Regions from separate parts of the Homo sapiens genome. Here region 2 is linked to region 1. The links come from fine-mapping of genetic effects on gene expression. Tissue or cell type: whole blood. Region 1 holds a variant in brackets; the other region holds the start of a gene. All regions are shown on one strand. Distances are from middle to middle.

Region 1 (10,233 bases):
GCCAGTAATAGGACATTTTTTAAATGGGCTTGAGCAACACCAGTCTTCAAGCTCAGCAAATAATGAAGGAAGTTGCAGCCCAGTTTGATTTTCCCGAAATTCTCATCATACTTTTCCCCTTCAGGCACACCTTCTCTAACATTATTTTTAAAGCTCTTCTCTTCCTTCTCCCTCTTAAAAACAATGCTTGAATCAGCATTTACTGGGGCGTGGGAGAGCAAATTATAACCACACATGGTAGTTCTGCGCTGAACACTGGAGGGCACAATTATGAACATTACGAAAACACTGGTGTTTGTGAATTTGGGGAAAAGTGTCAAATAAAGCACTATTTTTAACAGACAAGACCTTCAGGGGAAAGCCACAGGGATCTGTGGCAGGTTTAACCATGTTGAATTGGTAGAAGAACATTCCCTCTCTTATTAGTACTCGTGACATTACTATGGGTTGGATTTTCCTGTGCCCTCTCTTCTAGAAATCCCCATTTACTATTTCAGCTCCACATGTTTTCCATTTCATTTTGCAAAACCATCAAGTTTCTACAACCAAATAATAGTAACTGTGACATATATATCGTATATTAATATTTCTATATTTTATTTCAGTCTGAAGAGAGAAACCTTCTGAGGGCAAGGCCTCTATTCCTCTAAAAACAAGGTTTTCTCAATCTGGACAATGTTGACATCCTGGGCTGAATGTTGCTTTGTTGCTGGGCTGGACTGGGCTGTGCAGTGTGAGATGTTTAGCAGTATCCTTGGCCTCTACCCACCAGAAGTCAACAGCAGACTTCCTTTAACCTCACCTCCAGACTTGTGATCCTCCAAAATGTCTCCAGAGAGTACCAAGTGTTGGGCAACAAATCACTCCTGTTGAAACCAGTGCTGTAAAAGAACCCAAGCGAGGGCCAAGTGTTGCCCGAATCTGACTTTTATGACCAGAGTCTCTTAAAACTGTACCTGCCTCCAAAGAGCAGGGGATGCCACGGCCATCTCAGCGTTGCCATCTACCACTGTTCACACCAGGGAGAGCCAGCAGAGGGCGCCGTTTTCACACACTCTGCCCCGCCTTCTGCGCTCTCCAAGTTCTGAGCTTTTTACTGCATATAAGCAAAGACGAGGAACGTTTTATTCCCCGGGAAATATTTCCTATTTCTTTCTGGGCCTTCGTTTGATTAAAAGTTAATAACCCGGCCACACAAGGAAACTGGCACACTCACTCACTGATGGTAAGAGTGTAAACTACTACTTTCCTGGAGCAAAATGTGGTAGCGTCTATCAAGAAAAGCCTTGAAATATTTTTCTTTGACCCAGCAATTCTCATTTCAGAAATTTAACCTGCGGAAATGATTAAGAGTGAAAGAAAGTCCTTACCTACAAGGGTAGTCATCGAAATGTTGTTCACAGCGTCAAAAGACTGGAAACAAAATCCCATTACAGGGATCTGGTTAAATCAACCATAGAGCACCACCATGCGATGGAATTGCACGTGGTAATTTAAAACACTGGAGAACAACGTTTAAGGTTGCAGGAAGACGTACAGCGCTTAGGATGTGCCAGGCACTGCTGTGAGTACTCTGCACACTTCAACTCATTTAATCCTCGCAGCACCTCCAGCCGCATCAGTACTGTGACCATCCCATGTTATAGAAAGGAAAAATGCCCAAGTGATTTGTCCCAGGTTATGTCACTAGTAAGTGGAACTCAAACCTAGGCTTAAGCTCCAGCGTCAATGCATTTATCCCCTCAGGTATATGGCACTTGTGATGGACAAAGGGAGATGGGACAGAGCAGAGACGAGAGCCTAGAACAATGTACACCAAACTTATTGGTCTACACGCTATTACGGGTGTTGGTGCTTTAAAGCCAGCTCTCATATTTTGCTTCTAGAGCCTGGCCCTGTCTAATCAGTACCAACAGGGATTGCGCTCCATCCTTGCTAAGCTACTATAGGGAGTTCAGGGATGGAGAGCTGCTTCATGGATAATTCATGCCTCAGTTTCCTCAAGATAGAATTATGATGTTGGAAAAGATCATCTCAAATGTCAGTGCCCCCACTCCGTTTCTCTGCTTCACTGCTTCTGTCACCTTCCCAGGTATTTCCCATAGATTGCCACTGGTCACTTATTATCCCCAGGAAAGCCCAAGGCTTCTCAGAAACAGATGAACTGGCCGGGCTCAGTGGCTCACGCCTGTAACCCCAGCACTTTGGAAGGCTGAGGCGGGCGGATCACCTGAGGTCAGGAGTTCGAGACCAGCCTGGCCAACATGATGAAACCTCATCTCTACTAAAAATACAAAAATCAGCCAGGTGTGGTGGCACATGCTTGTAATCCCACCTACTTGGGAGGAGTAGCTTGAGAATCGCTTGAACCCAGGAGGTGGAGGTTACAGTGAGCTGAGACTGCGCCACTGCACTTCAACCTGGGCAACAGACTGAGACTCTGTCTCAACAACAACAACAAAAGAAATAAAGGAAAGGAAAGGAAAGGAAATAGCTGAACTATGGTACAATAAAAACAATTTCTAGACATAATGTATGTGCCTCTGTAGAACAGGAAGCCCTAGAGAGGAGAGGAAATAAAGAACCACAAAGAAAACTTCCAAACAGCAGTGTCTCTGTCCAACTGGCACGAAGACAGGAGGCAGATGACATCCTCTGTGGACCCCAGGACTGAGCTATTAGAATCACTGCTGATCTCGGCAACATGGGGCACCCTAAAAATAGGTCCATCTGTGGAAGTGCTTAACATCTTATGCTCTTCCTAACCCTTGCAAGAACTTAAACAAAAATCAGCAGGTTTGAATAAGCTTCAGAGGAAACTGGCTTGAGCTACAAAGACAGAAGACATCTGGAAGAGCTCCCATTTGCGAGTGGGCATATTTGTGGAAACAAATGGCTGGCTGAGGCACACACAGCAGCTTGAGTGAAGACAAGGCCCTACTTCTGTGTTCTCGGTACCTAGCACTGGTGTTGAATAAAGGAACGGACATTTACCATTTTGAGAGCAAACCACCAGGCTGGCCCTATCTGGAGGCAGGACCAGGGACTGGGTTTGTATCTTGTTTAATCCCCACATACTTGTTTAAAAGATATAAAATAAAAACAAGATGCTTAATCTTAGCAAAGTTCTATATTGATTCCTGGTCAGCCTAGAGATACAATGCTGTATTCGTTTCCCTTTGCTGCTGTAATAAATGACCACGAGCTTAGTGGCTTAAAACAACAGAAGTTTATTATCTTATAGTTCTGGAAGTCAGAAGTCCAAAATCAGTTTCACTGGTCTAATATCAGGGTGTCAGGTACCACAGGGCTGGCATTCCTTCTGGAGGCTGCAGGGGAGAATCTATTTCCTTGCCTTTTCCCACTTCTAGAGGCTGCCTGCACTCCTTGGCTCGTGGCCCCTTTGTCCATCTTCAAAGCCAGCGGTGCAATCTACTCCCTTCTCTGACTTCTGCTTCTGTCCTTACATCTTCTCTCTCCGCCTCCAATTTTCCTGCCTCCTTCTTATGAGAATCCTTGTGATTATGTGGGACCCACCTGGATCATCCAGGATCACCTCCCTGCCTCAAGACCCTTAACCACATCACCACACATCAGCAGAGACCCCTTTGGCCACGTACAGTAACATTCACAGGTTCTAGGGGTTAGAACGTGGACATCTTTGGGGCATCCTTATCATGGCCATTAAAAAAAGGTAAGAGTTGTGAATCTGGAGAGTGTGGCAGGGCACTGTGGCTGACTGCAGCACCCATTCGCCCTCACATGATCGGTCTAGGCCCATGATGCTAACTCCATCCCCTTTGGCAGTGGCTGCTTCAGGGATGGGACAAAGACATGGAGAGGAGGCTGCTGGGGAGGCCTCTGGGGAATGTTTTCCTGATCTTAAGAGAAACACACCAAAGGGTTCCACAGGCCACAAACAAGGAAGCAGACTGTGCAGCTGCTGCCATCAGCCATCCTATGGCCATGGGGACACCTGCCTCAGGATGACACTGCTGTGGACAGAAGAGAAAGGGCCTGAGTCTCCAGTGATGTCCCTTAGCCACCAACCCGAACCTGCTCTTCCTCTGGGCCTGGCACCCCAGTTTTGCAAGCATATTCATTTTCTTATTTTTAGAGCCACTTTGATTTGGTTCTGCTTCTTGAAAGGAGAAGAAAGAAAGGAGCAATGGCCTCTCATGCTTCTTCCCAGAACCAGGAACCAACGTGTTGCTAAAAGAAATCTAAGTTGGTCACTTGATGCCACTGCTTAGAGAGGCACAAATACTTTATGGCAAAAACATAACCCGATTCAACGTGGTACATGTAAAAACTTTCTCCCATAACAAGCAAATGCTTTTCTAATAAAGCAGCACAAAATCAGCCAGTATGATCTGTGGGTGATCTGTGAAGGAATCATCAGTGGAAAGGAAGAAGTGAACCATCCAGGGGCTGGGCTGCCAAAGCATGACTGCTGAGGCCCAGCACCATACATTTTGCATATGAAGACACACGATCCACAAGCGTCCACTGAGTATTTGTATTGGCTTTTGGGGGCTGCTGTAACAAAGCAACCCAAACTGGCTGGCTTAAAGCAACCGTAGTTCTGGAGGCTAAAAATCTGAAATCCAGATGTCGGCAGGGCCGTGCTCCCTCTAAAACCTACAGGGAGAGTCCTTCCTTGCCTTCTCCTTGCTGCTGGTGACTCCAGCATTCCTTGGCTTGCAGCTGCATTGTTCAAATTTCTGCCTCTGTTGTGCTAGGCTCACGGCCTGTGTGTGTCCATCTTCCCATAAGACACGTGTGAAGGCATTCCTGTGTGTGTGTGTCTAAATTTCCCTCTTCCTATAAAGACCCCAGTCCTATTGGATTAGGGCCCACCTTAATGACCTCATCCTAACTGGATTACATCAGCAAAGACCCTGTGTCCAAATGGTCACATTCCCGGGCGCCAGGGATTAGGACATCAACCTATCTTTCTGGGGGTGCGCCGCAGTCCACGGCCCACATCCTACCGTGCAGCAAAAACTAACGTGATTTCAAGGACGGTGAAGACAGGTGCCAGGCCCTTGAGCAGCTTACAAAGATTGGTTGGATGGACACAGATAAAATGGTGCAGGGAA[C/T]ACTGTCCTGACAGCAACCCTCTGTGGTAGGCATTATCAGCCCCATGTTACAAATGAAAACACCTGAGGCTCAGGAGGGTTAACAACCTTGCTGAGGGCCACATTGCTGGTCAGCAGTAGAGCCAAAATCCAAGCCTGCTTCTACGGATACCAAGGGCTCTCTCTCACTACGACAAGCTGGAGACATTCCCAGCTGAGGACAAAGAGGCACATTAAAGTCACAAACAGAATACAAATTGTTTAATGCATATTTGGGGGGGTAGGGAGGAAATAAGAAAAGCAAAGTTTCCTTGCCCCCTAAAGTCCGAAGTCAGATTGCCCCTTGCTGCAGAGACCTGGCAGCGACAGGCAGGACGGTGGGTCCTTCGAGTGGCATTGTCCTGTCCCTCCAAGCTGCCTCATTTGCAGGCAGCTGCCATCTCCCTGCATAGCAGGGGACTAATGGCAGGCATTCTTGGGGGCTACAGTGTGGGCAGGTGGCGAGCGAGGACTGAAAAGACGTTTTGTCAGGCCCAGCTTCTGCAGCGTGGAGGGGAAGGGCTGAGGAAGCCAGACTGAAGAACTGCTTTGGTGAAAGTGTGCCGCCGTCACAGTAAGTCACTGTGCATCTCTGCTGTTCCCGAGAGCTGACATTGCTCGAAGGCTAATTAGGAGCCAGACAGAACCAGAGGAGAGGAGAACGCTCTCAGGCATCTCTGCAGGAGAGGGGTGCAGGGCAGGAGAGTTCACTAGAGTGGGGTATCTCGGCCTCAGCCCTGCTGACATTTTGAACCGGATCATTTTTTGTTATCAATAATGACCATTTTGGGCCAGGCATGATGGCCATGCCTATAATCCCAACACTCTGGAAGGCTGAGGCAGGAGGATCACTTAAGTTTGGTCTCAAACTTCTGGCTTTAAGCGATACCAACTAGCAACACAGCAAGACCCCATCTCTACAAATAAATTAATAAATAAATAATTAACTGGGTGTGGCGGTGTATGCCTGCAGTCCCAGCCACTCAGGAGGCTGAGGTGAGAGGATCGCTTGAACTCAGGAGCTCAAGGCTACAGTGAGCTATGATCACACCACCACACTCCAGCCTGAGTGACTGAGACCCTGTCTCAAAAGAAAAAAGCAAGAAAAAAAGGAATGATCATTTTTTGTGTCCTGTGTATTGTAGGATGTTTTGCAGCCTCCCTGGCCTCTACCCACTAGATGCCAGTAACATCCCTCAAGTCATGACAACTAGAAATGTCCCCAGGGGGCAAACTCGTCCCTGGTGAGCACTGGCGTAGGAACATGCATCCTTTTTCCATAAGGAGGGCTCACTGTTTCCAGTGCTGTTCCAGGGAAGCCACCTGACATGCTCACTGCACCAGTGGCCTCCCCGCAAACCCTCGCTGCAGAAGCTCTGAAAAGCTATTAAGTTCACTGCCTACCCCCATCTTCATAAGCACAGAGATAATAGGCAACACATGTTCTCATAATGAAGAAAATGTTCCACTTGCCATTAAAGAAACACTAATTTGAAAACACACAACTGACATTCCCCACAAAGCCAGCAGGCACTAACCCCCTCTCCTATGGCCTTAGGGATGCATTAATTCAACTAGGGGCAGCTTGTGTACAAGCCCAAAATACTGGAAATACCCAAATAACTAGGAGAGGGAGCCTGAGGAGCTGCATCAGCAGGATCTAAGGCCGCAGCTGTCTGGTTAGGAAGAGCTCCTTCACGGGACCCAGCTAGAAAGTGGAGGAAGAATGGGTGGTGGATAAGAAAGCCACCTCCAACCACTCAATGGCTTGTGACTTCTGTCTGGACACCAACCAGCAATAAACAGCCAGCCCCAAAGTGTCCCTGAAGATGTCTACAAAACAGCAGCTGGAACCCTAACACCAGTGGTTGCTCCCTCCCCATTGCCCTTGCCGCCTGCTGATGGAAGGGACCCTGTGCGCTTGAACAGCAGCTCCCGTTCCCCCACAGTGAAATTGATTACTGTACCCACTAGGGTTCAAGTTTAAAAGATCTAAGTAGCCGGGTGCGGTGGCTCACGCCTGTAATCCCCAACACTTTGGGAGGCCGAGGCGGGCCGATTGCCTGAGGTCAGGAGTTTGAGACCAGCCTGGCCAACATGGTGAAACCCTGTCTCTACTAAAAATACAAAAATTAGCCAGCACGGTGGTGGGTGCCTGTAATCCCGGCTACTCAGGAGGCTGAGGCAGGAGAATCACTTGAACCCGGGAGGCAGAGGTTGCAGTGAGCCAAGATCACGCCACTGCACTCCAGCCTGGGGGACAGAATGAGACTCCGTCTCAAAAAAAAAAAAAAAAAAAAGAGAGAGAGAAAGAAAAAGAAAAAAGAAATGAAAGATCTAAGTAAAGTGGAAATCTTTGGTTCCTGGGCACATAACTACCACACACACCAAATATAACAAATGTGAGTGTAGGCTCGCCTGTGACTGTATCAGGAATCTTTTTCTAAAACAGATACACACCAAAAACTTACCTATTGAGGTAAGTGACCCCCTCCTCCCCCAAATGACCTCCAAAACGGTCTTGGGGCTCCTTGGCAGCTGTATTCCCATCTGTCTCCTCTTTCCCACACACTTGGATGGCAGGCACACTCCACGCAGCCTGCAAGCCATAGAGTTTCAGTAGCAACAGTGTCTCTCACCATGGCTAATCTAGAGTCTTAGCAGAGACTCCTTACTATCGTCTAAATGAGCAGGAGGATAAGCAGAGAACCACAGGGTGAAAGGCTTAGCTCTGAAATTAGCCAATGTGGCTTCAAAGCCCAGCTCCCACATTTGCTGTCTGTGTGGTCTTTGCAAGGGTCTGCCTGGCGTAGGCTCAAACGTAGATGGTTGTACTACAAAAAAAAAAAAAACAAAAAAAAAACCAAATATGCTGACCAGTGTCTCATGCTATCTTTGTTGCATAAATCACACCCAAAATGCATCATCTGTGATTTCCATGTCGGGCTTCTTGTGAAGCAATCTGAATATCCTAGATTTTTACAAATTTTGTTCCCAAATCTTTTACAGTTGCCTCATCCATACTTAATTCGATGGCATTTTTTTTTTGCAAAAGTAACTTTTATTAATATCATATCTTTCTAAACATTCTACTTCTTTTGTAGAAATGACAAATCTTGGTTTTCACATTCACACTGCAAACATTTACATAGCTTATAATTAAATTATTTAACAACAGTATGTGCAACTGGCATTTACAGGTTTATAAGCGCACACAGCGGATGCTGGTGAAGCCTACAACCCAGGTGTGAGAAGTGTGTGTGCGCATGCTAGAGAGAGAGTCTGTGAGCTTCCTGAAGGCAGGGGCTGGAATATTTTACAGAGAAAATAAGGAGCACTGGTTACATCAGTGCTCCCATTAGGCAGAGCGGTGATGTAGCTATAAGCTGAGTCCTACAGGAAGGCAGAGGCCGGAGTAAGTAAATGTGGCTGGGCTGGGGCATCTGTCCATAAGGACACACTGGACAACAGATCATGACCCCCACTCCTCCCACATCTAATATCCACTTTCTCTAAGGAGCTGGCAAATCAGTACTTAGAGGGCAAATGAACAGTGCAAAGGGCAGCTTTCAAGAAAGCCAGAATTATTCCTTCTTCCCAAACATCTCAGAAGACCAAAGGCCTAGAAGGAGCGGCCCAGAGGGCTTGCCTGGAAGGTTCTGTTTGTACTTATTAATTGTTACGCATCCACAACGTGGTTATTTAATGGGAAGTGAAAGCTGGGGGACCGGGAGGCTCATGAAAACCAACTCCAGTGAGCCTCCATCCTCTGCCCCCACCCCTTCAAAACAGGAAGGCCGTTGCCCTTGGCTGAACAGCTTTTTAAAGTGACCTTGACCCTAGGTTTCCCTTGACTGTAATTTTTTTTTTTTTTTTTTTTTTGAGTCTCACTCTGTTGCCTAGGCTGGAGTGCAGTGGCGTGACCTCCGCTCACTGCAACCTCCACCTCCCGGGTTCAAGCAATTCTCCTGCCTCAGCCACCCGAGTACCTGAGATTATAGGCGCCCACCACCATGCCTGACTAATTTTTTGTATTTTTAGTAGAGACGGGGTTTCACCATGTTGGCCAAGCTGGTCTCGAACTCCTGACCTCTGGTGATCCACCCGCCTTGACCTCCCAAAGTGCTGGGATTATAGGCATGAGCCACTGTGCCCAGCCCCCTTGACTGTTAATTTTTATATTTCAGAGCTCACAACAGTTGCATCACCAGCTTCCTTCCAGCCAAGAATGAAAAGGAAAGCTCCTACAAAATCCAGGGCTCGGGACTGTGTCATGGGACGCTCAGGGCCACTTAGGGACACTGCTGCAATGGCTCATGGCAGGTTGTAATATTTTAGTTTCACTATATGAGAAAATAGTCTCTCCTTCCTCTCAAGCCCCTGCTCTCAGAGAGCCCAGAAGTCCTAAATTGGCAGGGGTCTTTTCACCTTGACGGCGGGCTGGAGGACTGCCCGGGTGTTGCATCACAGAAGTTGCCTCAGCGTGCATCACTGCCACTCTGGCTGGACCGAGCAGGGCAAGGCTGGGTACACCATCTGCTGCCCCGGGGGATGCCTGGAGGCCAGCACTAGCCACGGCTACACAGCTCTGCACACACGCACACACGAGCGTCAGACTTGACCATGAAGCTGGGCACTCCTCTTCTGCAATCGCACTGGCATGTTTCAGGATTTTTTTATTTTATAAGGTGAAGTGACAGAACACAGTCTTCAAAGGAAAGTAAGAGTGTTTCCAAATGGCATCAGAGTGTGAACCTGAATTCTAATAAGAGAAGAGGAAGCTCAATTCTTAGGCCTGGAAAAGTTCAATCATGATGCCCTAGCTAAGACAATGCTTTACCCAAAGATTTCGACCAGGTGTGTCCAATCTTTTGGCTTCCCTGGGCCACAGTGGAAGAGGAATTGTCTTGGGCCACATATAAAATACACTAACACAAACAACAGCTACTAAAAAAAAAAAATCACAAATAAATCTCATATATATACATATATATATATATATATAATTTTTTTTTGAGACACGGTCTCACTCTGTCATCCAGGCTGGAGTGCAGTGGTGTGATCACGGCTCACTGCAACCTCCGCCTCCTGGGTGCAAGCAATCCTCCCACCT
Region 2 (10,233 bases), 58 kb before region 1:
TACTCGGGAGGCTGAGGCAGGAGAATGGCGTGAACCTGGGAGGCGGAGCTTGCAGTGAGCCCAGACTGCACCACTACACTCCAGCCTGGGCAACAGAGCGAGACTCCGTCTCAAAAAAAAAAAAAAAAAAAAAAAAAAAAAAAAAAGAAATGCGCTAGAGCAAGGGATTGGTAAACTAAGGCCCACAAGCCACTGCCTACTTTTGTTTGCCTCTAAGCTAAGAATGACTTTACATTTTTAAATAGTTGAAGAAAATCAAAAGAATATTTTGTGACACATCAAAATTATAAGAACTTCAAGTTTCAGTGACCGTAAGTTTTACTGGAACATAGCCACACCTATTTACATACTGTCTATCACCTGCTTTTGAATGACAAGGTGTGAGATAGGAAAAAATGCAAACTGCTTTCTCCTACAGTATTCTCATACTCACAATACTCTGAATTTTTTGTTTGTTTGTTTTAAGTAGAGATGGGGTCTCACTTTGTTGCCCAGGCTGGTCTTGAACTCCCGGGCTCAAGCAGTCCTCCCACCTTGGCCTCCCAAAGTGCTTGGATTACAGGCGTGAGGATTCACTTCTGACGTCAGGTATGTGTGGGGTTTCCTCTCCCAACAACCAATTCTCTGACACCAGCTGGGTGACCTATAATTTAACTCAATTCTCACACTATCTACCTGGATATAACATCAGACCGCAGAGGTCAAGGGCTCAGTCCCACAAGACTCTCCCCATTTCAGATACCAATTACAAGCAGTAGGTTCCCAGGTTACCCACAACTTGTCTAACTTGGCTACAATAAGAGGTTCCCACAACCCCCTTCTCAGGTTTGATCATTTGCTAGAGCAGCTCACGGAACTCAGGAAAGCACTTTACTTATTACCCATTCATTGTAAAAAGATGCCATTCAAAAACGGCCAGGTGGAAGAGACACATAGAGACATGTATGGGTTTTTATAGAGGCTTCACCATGTAGGTATGATTGATTAAATCACTGGCCATTAGTGAACAACTCAACCTTCAGTTTCTCTCCCCTTCCCCAGAAGTGGGAGTGGGTGGGAGGGACTGAAACTTCCAACTCTCTAATCACATGATGGGTTTTCCTAGGCAAACCCCCATCCTGAGGCTATCCAGGAGCCCCCAGCCATCAGTCATCTTAGCAGCATACAAAAAGACACTTAGCACTTAGGAGATTCCAAGGGTTTCAGGAGTTGTGCACAAAGAAATGGGAGCAGAGAACACACACGTATTTACTATTACATCACAGTACACAAAAGGGCAGAGTTGAATAGCTGCAATAGAGATCACGTGGCCCTCAAAGTCTAAAATATTTACTATATGGCCCTTTAAGGAAAAAGTTTGCAAACCTCTGCACTTGATTCAAAAATTTAAGGAACAACCAAATGTGTGGCTCTAAATGGGATACCATTTTGGACATGACCACCAAGGGACATTTTTGGAACAACAGGAAAAATTTGAGTATGATTTTGGTACTAGTTAAGATGAACATTTCCTGAAATGGAAAGGTGGAGACTGTGATTGAAAAAAGCAGAGCACAAAAGAGTAGCCTCAGTATGATCTTATTTTGTTTGGTATGCCTACAGAAGATCTGGAAAGATAGACATGGTGGTGTTATGTGTGATTTGGAGGAACTGTATTAATCTGCTTTTGCATTGCTATAAAGGAATACCTGAGACTGGGTGATTTATAAAGAAAAGAGGTGTATTTGGCTCATGGTTCTGCAGGTTGTACAAGATGCATGACACCAACATCTGCTTTTGGGAGGATCTCAGTAAGCTTCCAATCCTGGTGGAAAGGGAAGGGGAGCCAGTGTGAACTCATTACCACAGGGAGGCCATCAAGCCTTTCATGAGGGATCCACCCCCATGAGATGGATGTTGGGAAGTGACCCAAACACCTCCCACTGGACCACCTCAACATTGGAGAGCAAATTTTAACATGAGATTTGGAGGGGACAAATATCTAAACTATATCAGGAATGGAATATGATGTTTTTATTTTCACTGTTGTTTGTATTTTGCATTTTCTTCTTGCACAGATATTTCTCATTTTTTGGTGTACTATGTAGTCTAAGATCAATGCAGTAGAGATTCTGGCATATAATAGTTACAGGTAGAAGTATTTTTGAGAGTGGAAGAGTTTGTAAATAACACCCAGGGAATAGAATTCCACTTGTGGAGACAGAAAAGAGAGTATAAGCTGGGCTAAAGAAATTCTCATGCTGGCCAGTGGCTCCACGTGTAATCCCAGAACTTTGGGAGGCGGAGGTGGAAGGACTGCTTAAGGCCAGCAATTCAAGACCAGCCTGAGCAACATAGCAGGACACAGTGGTCTACAAAAAAAAATTAGCCTGGTATGGTGGTGAGCACCTCTAGTCTCAGCTACTTGGGAGGATGAGGCAGGAAGATCACTTGAGCCTAGGAGGTCAATGCTGGAGCCATGATCTAAGCCACTGTACTCCAGCCTAGGTGACAGAGCAAGACCCTGTCTCAAAACAAACAAAAACCCCCACTGTTGGGGTATAGTTCTAAGGGGCAGCCACTTGTTATGCAAGTAGAAAAGAGAGAAATGTAGAAAGAATTACAATGGTCAGCTGTCTTAAACCAAAATCTAAGGTAATTTTCATAAAATGGGTTCAATTTTTCATGCAATTGTCCCATGTGAAGCTTGTTCCAGGGATTTAATATGATGTTTTTCAAAATATTGTTCAGAACTCATTATTAGGCTAAGAAATTAGTCTAGCGATTCATGGGCAGAATTTTTTAAATGACACAAACTGAAAGATTAAATATCAGAGTAAGTCATATACCAAGGATAGAATGCATAATATGATCTCATTTCTGTTTCAAAAGGAAAAAAAAAAACCTTGATATGTTGTATTTTTATGAATCTGTATAACAATCTATTAAAAAATTAGGGAAGGCTATACTTCAAACTTTTAATATGGTTACTTTAGGAGAGTGGGGCTAAAGGAAACCATACAGAAAAAAATTTATTTCAATTATTTATTCCAATAAAGTCACCTTCTTTAAGAAGTCTTTTCTTGCTTATTTTATCTGATGCTAATCCCTTTACTAATTTTCTTATCACCTTAGCACTAAAGCCACTCATTCATACTTTCCCAAACAGTCATTGTACTACGCCCCTAGGAAAAAAATATAAATACCATACCAGTATCTGCCTTAAGAGTTTGATCTAGTGGGAAAGGCATACTCATATTTAATTATAAATAATGTGGTATAAGTTTTAAGGAGTGAGTAGGCAGACAGGCAACAGGGTAGTTGGTAGGCAGAGGAATATTTTGGCCCCAAACTGCCACTCTAAAACCTTGTCAGAGGTAACAAACAGCATGCACAAGTGTTTATAGAGCAGCCCAGGGATGGGCTAGAAAAGTGGGCAGGACTGGACCACAGAAGGGCTTTGTATGGTGTGTAAGCATTTAGGCTATCCTGAGGAGCGTAAATGAAAGATTTGAAGCAAAAGAAACATTTAGCTGATTTGATTTTTAGATACACCAAAATGGAGTCTACATGGAGGATGGATTTAAGACATTAACTTGAGGCAGGAATTTGGTTGTATAACATAAACACACTTTTAAAAAGTTATGTGGCCTTTCTTTACGGAGTACTTCATGGCTCTTTATTCCATCTCCCTCATCAATTATATCAAAGGTTAGGATGGAAAGGCTAAGACACGGCAATGTCTTATTTGACAACCCCTCCCCAAACCCCTACTCCAGGCTTTCCCACAGCAATTTCAAAACCTTTTTCCTGGCACTTAACATATTCTCCCCTGCATTTGCTTTTGACTGTACAGTACATAGGTCTTAGGTCTCCAGTCTGAAAACTGCACCACTAGATTTTACAGTTCCACAGGACTTAGCACAACGTCTTTGAAAAAAAAAAATACTGCTTAAATAACTCTCAGATCTAAATGTATAATCCTAATCTCTTGATTGCCAGACCACATTCCCAATTGCCCAGATATCTCTACCTGGATGTCCTATAATTATCTCAAACTTAACCTAATCCAAATGGACCTGGGTACCTCTCTTCACCGCCAAACTAGTCATGCTTCCATTTCATATTTAAGTACTTTTCCAAACCCTGAGTCATCTTTGTTCACTCTCTACTACCGGCCATGAACACTCAGCTGCTAAATGCTGCACACATCTCTTCCATTTCTCTCTCTTTTCCATTACCCTAGTTTAAGCTCTTGAAATGCTTCCCTACCTCTCCCTATTTCCCACAAAACCTACATAATAGCTATCAGGATTACCTTGCTAAAGCAGAGGTGTGATCACTGTCATTTCCCACCTTCAGGTAGCTGGAAACCCCACAAAACGAGGATCATGCCCATTTAAATCCCGCAGCATTCTCCCTCTCGTTCTACTGATGCCGACTGGATCATTGTACTTGCCAAGTACAGTTTGTTTTTCTCCCCATTACTTGTGTTTTCTAGTTTCTCCACCAGATGGTGATGACAGTACAACTGGGAGCTTTGTGCCCTGTGTTCCTAGGCCAGTGCCAGGCCCACTTGAGGCGCTCACTAACTATGATATGAACGAATGAATGCTTGAGTGAATTGGTCCCCAGAAGCGGTCAGCCTCTCCGCCAAGGCAGAGGGGAAGGGCCGGGAGGTGCACGTGGGATGAATGGAAACATAGTGATTGGCCTTTTTGGAGTTTTCTTCTTAAAAAACTGAATACATTACAGATGTTGAAAACAGCACAAAAATCATAACTGTACGGCTTGTTAATTTTTACAAATAAATACACCCTCGTGAATCCAGAACCTAGATCAAGAACCAGAGCATTACCAGCACCCAGAAACCTCCCCGCGCCCTCCTCCACTGAGCGGCCCTTTCAACCCTTACAATGCCGGAGGGCGCAATTCCTGGGTCCTGTGACCTTGGTGACCGACGCCCGGGACAAGTCAGAAAGACCCAAGGGCGTGGAAAACGCTCCTCTTACCGATAAACTTGAAGCGACTCATGACTGCGCATGGAGGACCTCCCCAGCGGAAGCGGAAGTGGCCGCCGGCAACTCCGCCCTTCCGGCTGGCCCCGCTCAGTCACCCGCAGCAGGCGTGCAGTTTCCCGGCTCTCCGCGCGGCCGGGGAAGGTCAGCGCCGTAATGGCGTTCTTGGCGTCGGGACCCTACCTGACCCATCAGCAAAAGGTGTTGCGGCTTTATAAGCGGGCGCTACGCCACCTCGAGTCGTGGTGCGTCCAGAGGTAAGGGATGGGGACCCAGGACTCGGGGAGGTGACCCTCGGGGCCCCATGGAGGTGGAGAGGCCCCTGGGTACCTGGAGGTTCAAGGACTTCGGGAACGGAATTGGAAGGTGGCCTCTCGCTTCACAGAATCCTATGGTAGACCCGGGTTCAAATCCAGGCTTCGCCACTTATGGCCGGGAGACCTTGTAGAGTTGCTTGTCGGGTCTGGGCGTCAGCTTTTTGTTTAGTAAAACGGACGCACGACCAGCGCAGAGGGTCGCAGGAAAATTAAGTGAAATAAAGGAAAGTGCCTAAAATTGTAATTGTCATGGGTCCAGCGCTCGCTCAATCGTTTTCTTCACGATCTTCTCCTTTCCAATATTAACAGCAATAAACTATGCATTATTTTCTTCAGTCTGCAAAACTCTAGGAGTTAGGAATTATCTTAAGCTTATTTTACAGATAAGAAGATGAGCACAGCTGGTAACTTGCGCAAGGTGATAGAGTTTCTAAGTGTCTGAGCCAGGGTTAAAATTTAGGTCTTTCTCCAAAGCATCATCATTCTCCCACCCCTCCCATTAGCTTTTCTCTTTTTAGCTTCATCTAGTCCTTTTCATTACCTTTACATCTTTTTCACCTCTTACATAATTCTCTTTCGACCTCTATCCGTCTGAGACTAGTCTGAGAACATAGTGTTAAAATGTGTAGATTTTAATCACCTAAATTCATTGCAGGGTGGGCTAACAACCCAAGATGTGTGAGTGCCTCGCCTCCACTCCAGTCTTACGACTCTCCAAACGTAGTTTTATAAGAAGGCCTTCTGGGAAAAAAACTCTATGGAAAATGGAGTAGGCCTGGAAGAATTACAGAGGGTACCCTCGAAGCCCAGATTGCATATATGTGACTATTAGAAAATCACTGACATACTTCTCTTGATTTGGCAGGAAGATGGCCAAGTACAATGTGATGGGATTGTTAGTTTCTTCCTTGAGTTTTCCTTATTTATTTATTGATTTGACAGAATTTGCAATTCAGATTCTATGCTCTATGCTAAATATATAAATGTTAGTAAATCCATTTTTGAGCAGCAGCAGCTCACGGATTAGTGGGGAAAATGGACATGTAAACAAATCGATGATGAAGGAAGTTGAGCCATCAGGGATTCAGGTATCCCAACACAAATGGTAAATGTTTGAGGTGATGAATATCCAAATTACCCTGATTTGATCATTATACATTATATGGATGTATTAAAATATCACATGTACCCCATAAATAGGTACAATAATTATGTGTCAAAAAAAGTTAAACATGAAAAAAAGAATTCAAGCAATACTGAACTATAGCTGGGAATACTAAAGTCCATAGTTCTAGAGGAAAATGATATAAACTAGCTACTATGACAGTTATGGCTCAGCATTTTTTAGATCTGACATTCTTTCTCAATCCTTGCCTTAATTTCTTCCTCCATTTGCCCTCATTGTGCTGTTCTCTGTGGTTCCATCCTAGGCATACTGTGTTGTTGTATGTACTCGGGCAGCCTCATTTAGTGCTGTCACCACCTGCGCTCATTTGTCTCTAGAGCTGTAGTTCGAATTGCTTGTTAGATCACGACTGTTGGCTGGGCATGATGGCTCACGCCTATAATCCCAGTACTTTGGGAGGCTGAGGTGAGTGGATCACCTGAGGCCAGGAGTTCAACAGCCTGGCCTACATGTGAAACCGCGTCTCTACTAAAAATACAAAAATTAGCCAGGCGTGGTGGTGGGTGCCTGTAATCCCAGCTACTCATGAGGCTGAGGCAGAAGAACCGCTTGAACCTGGGAGGCAGAGGCTGCAGTGAGCCGAGATAGCCCCATTGCACTCCAGCCTGGGCGACAAGAGTGAAACTTTGTCTCAAAAAATAATAATAAAAAAAAAATTGAAAAGATCACCAACCGTTCTCTCAATCTCCATTTATCTAAATTCTTTGAAATCAAACTTGTTTTCCTGTCACTCCCCATTCTGACTCTTTTCCCAAATTCCCTGCCTCCGCTAATGGTATTATTAGTAATTCAGTTACTGAGCTTTAAGTCTCAGAATTGTTCTCAAGTATTTGCTCCTTATTCCTTTGCCAATAACACACATACTCATACACCATGTATAATTAGACACTGGTTTTTATAAATTCTCTTTCCAGTATGATATTAGTAACTGACATTATTTAACACTTGGGATGTACCAGGCACTTTTTAAAGTGTGTTTATCTTATTGACTGTTTATGACAACCTTAAGATATACACACTGTTATTGCCACTGTTTTACAGAGGAGGAACCCGTGGCCTAGAAGACTTTTTTTGTTTGTTTTTTTGTTAGACGGAGTTTCGCTTATGTTGCCCAGGCTGGAGTGCAGTGGCGCGATCTTGGCTCACCGCAAGTTCCGTCTCCCGGGTTCAAGCAATTCTCCTGCCTCAGTCTCCCGAGTAGCTGGGATTACAGGCATGCGCCACCACGCCTGGCTAATTTTTGTATTTTTAGTAGAGACGGGGTTTTGCCATGTTGGCCAGGCTGGTCTTGAACTCCTGACCTCAGGTGACCTCCACCTCAGCCTCCCAAAGTGCTGGGATTACAGGCGTGAGCCACCGTGCCTGGCCTTTTTGTTGTTGTTGTTGTTGTTTTTTTTTGAGATGAAGTCTCGCTCTTGTCCCCCAGGCTGGAGTGCAAATGGCACAATCTCGACTCACTGCAACCTCTGCCTCCCGGGTTCAAGCTATTCTCCTGCCTTGGCCCCCAGAGTAGCTGGGATTACAGGTGCCTGCCACCACGCCCGGCTAGTTTTTGTATTTTTAGCTGAGACGGGATTTCACCATGTTGGCCAGGCTGGTGTAGAACTCCTCACCTCAGATGATCCCCCTGCCTTGGCCTCCCAAAGTGCTGGGATTACAGGCGTGAGCCACCATGCCCGGCCTCATTTTTGTATTTTTAGTAGAGACGGGGTTTCTCCATGTTGATCAGGCTTGTCTTGAACTCCAGACCTCAGGTGATCCACACGCCTTGGCCTCCCAACGTGCTGGGATTACAGGTGTGAGCCACCGCACCTGACCAGAAGACAGTAACTTACCCCAAGTTACACAGCTAGTAGTGGCAGAGCTAAGATTCAGGCCCATACAGTCTGACTGGAGAGCCTATTCTCATAACTTGGAAGTCTCAATGTCTCCCCTGTCTCCTGTCACCATCACAGCTCCGTACTTTCAGGCCCTCGTCAGCTGTGTCCTAGATTATTGTCAAAACCTCCTAACTGATCTTTGCCCAGTTTCTTTAGAACTTGACTTTAACTTGCCTAAGTTTATGCAGCTAGTGTCAGAGTCAGGATACAAACCTAGCTCTGTATGAGCTAAGCAATACTGTTTCTGCCAAGTAACACCTTTCTTATTCATCTTTGTATCTCCAGAATTTAGCATAGTGACTAGCACAAGATAGAAGGAAATGGAAGTTGTCATTCAATGAATGTTGAATGATCCTGCAGAGGTTATAGCTTTTCTCTTGCGAATGCTCTTTTCTTTTTTTTTTTTTTTTTTTTTGTTTAAATCCTCATTCCATTGTTGGATGTAAGAGGAGAAAAATGGTTAGGGTATATATTTAATACAGTATTTTTTTGCTGCTGCTGTTTGGTGGGCTGTAGAGGAAGCAGCCATGATGATACGGCTGCTCCATTGGGAGGGTTGGGGTAGGTCCACTGCCCATCCAGAAGGTATCAGAAGTGCAGCCTCCTGTCAGACAGCAACACTGACCACGTGAGTAGGTAACATTTCTAATCTTCAAAATCATTTTGGTTTAAGAGACAAATACCGATACTTTGCTTGTTTGATGAGAGCCCGGTTTGAAGAACATAAGAATGAAAAGGATATGGCGAAGGCCACCCAGCTGCTGAAGGAGGCCGAGGAAGAATTCTGGTACCGTCAGCATCCACAGCCATACATCTTCCCTGACTCTCCTGGGGGCACCTCCTATGAGAGATACGATTGCTACAAGGTAGGTGAGAATTATGATGACTGCCTTCTGAGAAATAGACTTTGTTTCTTCAGTCCCACACCTCAGCCTCAGAAATCACTTGCCCTTCAAGGGGTAGCTAGGAGACTTATTTCCTGACAGTTGTCAGATGCAGGCCTACCTCATTTTATTGCATTTTGTTTTATTGTGCTTGGCAGATATTGTATTTTCACAGATTGAAAGTTTGTGGCAACCCCGTGCTGAGCAAGTCTGTGGGCACCATTTTTCCAACAGCATGTGCTCACTCCCTGTCTCTGTTTCTCAGTTTGGCAATTCTTGCAATATTTCAAACTTTTTTTTATTATTACTCTATCTACACACAGTTGTGGTGAACTGTGATCAGTCACCTTTGATGTTACTATTGTCATTGTTTTGGGGCACAAAAAAACCATGCCCACATAAGACAGCAGACTTAATCGATAAATGTGCGTGTGCTGACTGTTTCACCGACCAATAGTTCCTCCGCCTCTATCCCTCTCCTCAGGGTTCCCTATTCCCTAAGACGCAGCAACAGTGAAATTAGGACAATTAACGACCATACCATAGCCTCTAAGTGTTCAAGTGAAAGGAAGAGTTACATGTCTCTCACTTTAAATCCGTTACACGTCTCTTCCTTTAAATCAAAAGCTAGAAATGATTAAGCTTAGTGAGGAAGGCATGTTGAAAGCCAAGGTGGGTAGAAAGCAAGGCCTTTTCCGCTGGTTAGCCAAGTTGTGAATGCAAAGGAAATTAAAGGTTTTTTTAAGGAAATTAAAAGTGCTGCTCCACTAAACACACAAATGATAAGTGAAACTGTCTTATTGCTGATATGGAGAAAGTTTTAGTGGTTGGGACAAAAGATCAAACCAGCCACGACATTCCCTTAAGCCAAAGCCTAATCCAAAGCAAGTCTTTAACTCTTCATTTCTATGAAGGCTGAGAGAGATGAGGAAGCTGCAGAAAAAAAGTTGGAAGCTAATAGAGGTTGGT

Evidence for each region. PIP is the estimated chance that this variant, and not a neighbour inherited with it, causes the effect.
Region 2: TATDN1 starts here. The variant in region 1 is fine-mapped to the expression of TATDN1 in whole blood (INTERVAL, PIP above 0.99).

The regions. Positions count from the first base shown.
Region 1 is chr8:124,592,083-124,602,315 of GRCh38, forward strand. All of the region lies in intron 3 of MTSS1 (MTSS I-BAR domain containing 1), which reads right to left. Among named protein-coding and RNA genes, the nearest start is that of NDUFB9, 58 kb to the left of the region's middle. RefSeq lists an enhancer at 714-993. The variant C/T (reference allele first, on the strand shown) is at 5,103.
Region 2 is chr8:124,534,034-124,544,266 of GRCh38, forward strand. It overlaps TATDN1 (TatD DNase domain containing 1), which reads right to left and starts at 5,052. Exons shown (of 12, transcript NM_032026.4): 1 at 4,992-5,052. The coding sequence starts at 5,013. NDUFB9 (NADH:ubiquinone oxidoreductase subunit B9) reads left to right here and starts at 5,090. Exons shown (of 4, transcript NM_005005.3): 1 at 5,090-5,254; 2 at 9,054-9,246. The coding sequence starts at 5,154. RefSeq lists an enhancer at 4,913-4,982.